Linked DNA regions of Homo sapiens: region 1 is linked to region 2. Evidence: fine-mapped expression QTL. A gene starts in region 2. The other region holds a variant in brackets. All regions are shown on one strand. Distances are from middle to middle.

What was found. PIP is the estimated chance that this variant, and not a neighbour inherited with it, causes the effect.
Region 1: its variant is the best candidate, but not a certain one, in a credible set for the expression of DNAH14 in thyroid (GTEx, PIP 0.59).

What each region holds. Positions count from the first base shown.
Region 1 is chr1:224,872,063-224,874,987 of GRCh38, reverse strand. No RefSeq gene overlaps it. Among named protein-coding and RNA genes, the nearest start is that of DNAH14, 56 kb to the left of the region's middle. The variant AG/G (reference allele first, on the strand shown) is at 1,505.
Region 2 is chr1:224,927,964-224,930,888 of GRCh38, reverse strand. It overlaps DNAH14 (dynein axonemal heavy chain 14), which reads right to left and starts at 1,214. Exons shown (of 86, transcript NM_001367479.1): 1 at 1,054-1,214. It overlaps LOC105373109 (a long non-coding RNA gene), which reads left to right and starts at 1,318. Exons shown (of 3, transcript XR_949207.2): 1 at 1,318-1,379. RefSeq lists a silencer at 880-979.

The sequences.
Region 1 (2,925 bases), 56 kb after region 2:
GGGCCTTAAGACTAATACAGCCTTCTCCAGAACAGACGCCGCAAGACTAACACGGCTCATAATCTGCTTTTCACAGGTGCACTGAAGTGTGCGGTCTGGTCACCCAGCCCGGCAGCCAGAGGGGAAGCCTTGCCCTTTATTCAGCTTAGGGCAGAAACCATTCAGGCATTCATGTCAAAAGAAAAATCACTGCAAAAGAAAAATGAAAACCCTACTAGTTGTTAATTTGACTCAATATTTATATTTAATAGTTACATTTAATATTGCTATTATAAATGTCATTTTCCCACTTTTGATGGGACTTTATATATAAATGTATATACACAGAGCAACATATTCATTTAATAATCATTCATATTGTTTCTAAAATGAACTGAACACTGTGGAAGTTGCTGTCACCAGCTATTTCATCACATCTCCTCCATATTTCAATTTTTACTGAATATTATATTAGAAGTCTAAAATCCTCCAAGCTCCAAATATAACTTTTAAAGGCAATATCAAATCAATATTTAAAAGAGTGAGGGTAGGAAATCCAGTAGAATTGCAAACCCATTACAGATAGATTTCAATGGTCTGGATTCGTTAAGAAAAAGGATTTTAAAATAAAAATGCATTAGGTCTACAGTCAACATGATCCTCATATTTTGCTCTCTGACCATGGCTCAGAAATTGCCAGGTCTGGCCTCTCATTTCTTCTTTCCCAGGATTACAAGGAAGACTTTGAACTCAGCTCCAGAGTTCACCTAAAGATTAACCTGTAAATGGACTGTAGCTGTTAAAAAGAAAAAAAAATTGTGAGTCCATTAGGCTGAGAAGACTCTTGTGCCTCAGATTCCTGCAAAAGCAAACCTAAGCTCAATATAAACAGAAAAATGAAACTTAAGCTTAACCAATCAGAAACCACCAGTTAACCTCTAACTAGGAACTTTCCACTTTAGCCAAATTTTTTTTTATATAAAAGTAAATATTTTTTACTTCCCCAAACACCTTATAAAATTTTCCTCTCTCTGCCTCCCGGGTCCCCCACAGTGGAGTGCTGAACCATGGGTGGTCCAGTGTTATTGATTCATGAATTCCTGTCTACTCAAATATACTCTTTAAAGTTTTAATGTGCCTAAGTTTATCTTTTAAAATAGCCCATGATGTGGTGGCTTTTAAACTTTATTTGGGGATGATAATCAGAGGTGCCATAAGCAGCAGTGAGATTTTAAATGAGTCACTAAAACCCGTCTTGGCTCAGTTTTCCTTATTGTGAAATGAGGCATCTGTGGATTTATGACAAGAGCTAGGAAGCGTGGAGTAATCTGTAGGTGGGAAAAAAGAATTGCAGATCATATGAAAGATTTAGCAGCAGACTTCCACAGTTGTCATGTAGAAAAGGTCAGATGCATGTTTCTTTATGCCCAGCCCCCAGCTGGGTGTCTGATCTTGCCTGCCTCCTCAGTGAAGGAGAGGAGGGGAGAGTTGGTGAAAGGAGAGGGAGTGAATAGGAGAGGAGACA[AG/G]GAGGGAGAAGAGAAAGGAAAGAGAATAAATGAATGAGTAATGAATGAGTGATGCAGGGAGGTCAATGCGTGAAGGTGATGGGTTACTCACACTCATCAAGCCTGGTGACAAGTGGACCTGGGCAGAAGTAGCTGGATGAGTCCCTAAAGCCTCTAGCCTTTCCCTAGCCTTTCAAGGTGCTCTAGTCACTTCTCTGGAGAAGGAGGTGGAGCCACCCTACCTCAGCTCTGCAGCCCCAGAGCTGGAGAAAATGCTCCAAACTGCAGAAGCCTGGCCAGGGTGCTCAACACTGCAACATTTTTTACAGTTGCTGCTTTTCTCAAAGACTTTTAAATGATGGTTGTAATACTGGAAAATGAGTGTTTAAATCATACTTTAGACAGGAGGGAACCTAAAACTTATTCGATTCCACCTTTTAACTTTGTGGATAAAGAAAACAAAGACCATATTTTATTGCAGCATACTCTCATGAATAATGACACACTTTGTAGAAAACGTCCAATAAAAGATGACCTATTGATGGCAGTGCTATTTCACAGCTGCTTCTATATTGAATCTCCCCAACTGGATTGAAAATATATCAAGGACAGAGATGGTGACGAGCCACTTCTTAGTTTTGCATCAAACAGAGGCCCATGAACACTGCACATGCTTATAAATATGCAACACCCAAGCCATACAATGCACATAAAGCACACATATGTGCACACATAGAGAATACACTCTGTCATCCATACGCACACATGTATGTATGCGCACACATGCATATGCCACACGTGCATGTGCCATACACGTGCACATAGAAACACATTCACTCACATACCTACACCAGGACTGTAATACACATACACGTACCTGTGCATCTGCACACACATGCACACTTATGCACATAAACAAGCATGCACATATACATATGCACCCATCCTCTAAATTCTGTTTTCTGGACCAATCCACAAGTGCTGCATGACTAATAAGGCCATGAGTGATTTTACTGAACACACTGATTGTTGTTTAAAATCTGTACCAATAGCTCTTTGAGAAAATAATCTAAATATATTGTTCTCAAGTCCCTCAACTGAGACTAAAAAATTATAATAGGCTCTGAAGAGAAGTTAGCTTTATAAGAAAATAAGACAGCCCCAAAATACTGCTCTCTACCATATGACAGCACCTCGGGGGGATTTATTCACATTTTTATACCTGTTCTGAGGGAAAGAAAAACACTTGGTTCTCCCAGAGAAGAAAGATGTACAAAAGAATACTAGTAATAATAATAAAAACAGCAATCAACCTGTATTCCATCCATCTGCTCTGACAAAGTAATGCTTTTAAAACATAAGTCTGATGATATCACTGGTCTACCTTAAACCTTCCAATAGCTTCCCCTCACTCAGAGTCAAATGCAAACTCTCAACAATG
Region 2 (2,925 bases):
CCGTGGCTCACGCCTGTAATCCCAGCACTTTGGGACTCCGAGGTGGGCAGATCATGAGGTCAGGAAATCGAGATCATCCTGGCTAACACGGTGAAGCCCCGTCTCTACTAAAAATACAAAAAAATTAGCCGGGCATGGTGGAGGACGCCTGTAGTCCCAGCTACTCCGGAGGCTGAGGCAGGAGAATGGCGTGAACCCGGGAGGCGGAGCTTGCAGTGAGCCCAGGTCGCGCCACTGCACTCCAGCCTGGGCGACAGAGCGAGGCTCCGTCTCAAAAAAAAAAGTATGGTATAGTAAATACATAAGCAAGTAACATACTCATCTGTTATTATCAAGTACTATGTACTGTACATAATTGTATGTGCTACTCTTTTATGACTGGCAGCACAGTTTACAATAGCATCACCACAAACACATAATGCCTTGACTATGACATCACTAGGCGACAGGAATTTTTCAGCTCCATTATAATCTTATGGGACTACCGCTGTTATGAGGCACATGACTGTATATGTACATATATTTCCTAGCGTAGTCTATCCCACAAACGCAAGTAAAATATCCATTAGTGTCCCTAATGTAATTCATCAACTTCTTAGAAAAGTTATATCTCTACATACAAAATCACTTATAATAATCCATATATATTTGTGTTGAGAGTGTATATGTATATATTATACAATAAGTGATGGCAAGGTTTTTCAAATAGCTCATTATTCGTTTATAAATGGAAAATTTTAAAAAACTTCAGAAATATAGGACTAGAAGGGAACGCGGCCTGCCTGAGGGAGAGCAACTAAGAAGAACCTCGCGTTGAGAGCTCCTGCGGTCGGGGCTACCGGCGTGGCGGCGCCGGCGCCTGGTGGATGCGCCAGCATCTGCCTGGTGAGGGTTCCGCGCGGGGACTCGGAGGCGCTCCCACAGCAGCTGGGTGGGGAGCGCCCAGGCCCTCCGCGCCCACGCAGCCCTCCCAGTGCGACACCGGCTGCCCCACGCGCCGCCCGCCCGCCGAGGCTCTGCCGACCGCTGACAGGAAGACGCTGACGACCTTACCCGCCGCGCCGTGGTCCGACGGCCGTTGTGGCCCTTCCTGGAAGCGGCGAAGGTCCGGCCCGCCCACGCCGGCGAGCGCCAGACTAGGGTGAATGGGAAGGACCGCGCAGCACAGCCCTACCACGCCAGGCTCCGACGCCTCCTGGCCGTAACCGCCTGACCAAGAGCCACGCCTGCGCCCTGGCGAAGAGGCCACAATGGGGGTGGGGTCCCGAACGCGGCGCAAGGGATCCTGGGTGCCGGGCAGGTGAGGAGGGGCCCTGGCTCTTGCGAGATTCCACCGCGGGTACGCGGCGGCCCCCGATGTGACACCGACGGTGCTGGGGGTAAGGGGGGTGTTGGGGGTGCAGAGTGTGGCCCAAAAGTGTGCCCTAAAGGCAGATCAGATATGGTGCCCAAGTTAAAGACTCTAGTCTGACCTTTCTACCACCTGCATGCCTACCTAGGTATGGCCTAAAGGCGGGAGAAATGTGTGCCTTTGCAGAACAGGTGGCTCTGAGACCTCTGAAAGAGGTGACTTACACTTAAGATTTTCACAACTCGTGGGCGTGAATTTTCATTAAAAAGCCTCACTTACTAGTGAAGGATCGTATATATGTAATAAAACAGGTCTAAGAGGTATACAATTCTAAGGTAAAAATAATTACATATATATTAAAATACCCCATTTCTTTTTAAAGGTCTTATAAAAATTTAGTAAGTTAATGTTCTATATTTCACTCACGCAACAACTACAATATTTATTGAGCACTTACTATGTGCCAGGCACTGAGCTAGGCACAAAAAATACCTGGGTGACTTCATATTTCTTGGTGGGATCCACAGGAAAAAAAAATGTAGAGATTTGTTGGGGCCTATTACATCTAAGGCTGTGTTTAATATTTTAAAAATCAGCTTCCCATTTTTGTTACAATATTTAATAAGTTTAAATATATAACCATTCGGCATATTACAGTAAAATCTATGTATGAATTTGAGTCTTTGAGACGCTGTTTGGTAAGAGGGTTTAGGTATTGGGGGTAAGGAAATATGTCACTTTAAAAAGGAAAAACATTTTGGAAATAATGTTTTTATATGCCAATAATCATTTCCATTTGAATAAAATTGGCCAAAAAGTTGAGAGTCGTAACTTAAAAAAAATCAGTCAATAGACTGTCTAAAACAAAATAAGATCAACAAAAAAGACAGACTATGAAGGGCCGCCTGAGTTCACATCCAGTGTTCCTTATCTCAGTAAATAGCAATTCTATTTGCTTAAACCAAAAATCACTGGCGTTATCCTTGACATTTCCCACTCCCTTACCTTATATAGGCTTATTCTTTTTTGTATAACTTACTATAAAAGTGAATAAAGTATATCTATAGTATTTCATCTTAACTTGATTGGTTTTAGTAATCTATTTTTTTAAATGCATTTATACGTTCTTTCCCAGTGCTTTCTGTAATCATTTTTTAAATGTTTTTTAATGAAATTATTTCAATGGAAAAATGAAGTCAGATTTTATGATAAAAAGTCAGCCTGATTTGGCTAATTGATTTGACAATGCTGATTATACAGCAGACATTTTCCATAAATTAAATGAGCTAAATCCACAGATTCACAGTTTTGACAAAAAAAAATTGAAAAACATAAAAATGTCTTTAAAATTGTATTGGCAAAAGTGTATTAAACTTTTTTTTTAATTTTACTTTAAGTTCTGGGATACAAGTGCCGAACGTGTAGGTTTGTTACATAGGTATACATGTGCCATGGTGGTTTGCTGCACCTATCAACCCATCATCTAAGTTTTAAGTCCCGCATGCATTAGCTATCTGTCCTAATGTTCTCCCTCTCCTTACTTCCCAATCCCTGACAGGCCCTGGTGTGTGTTG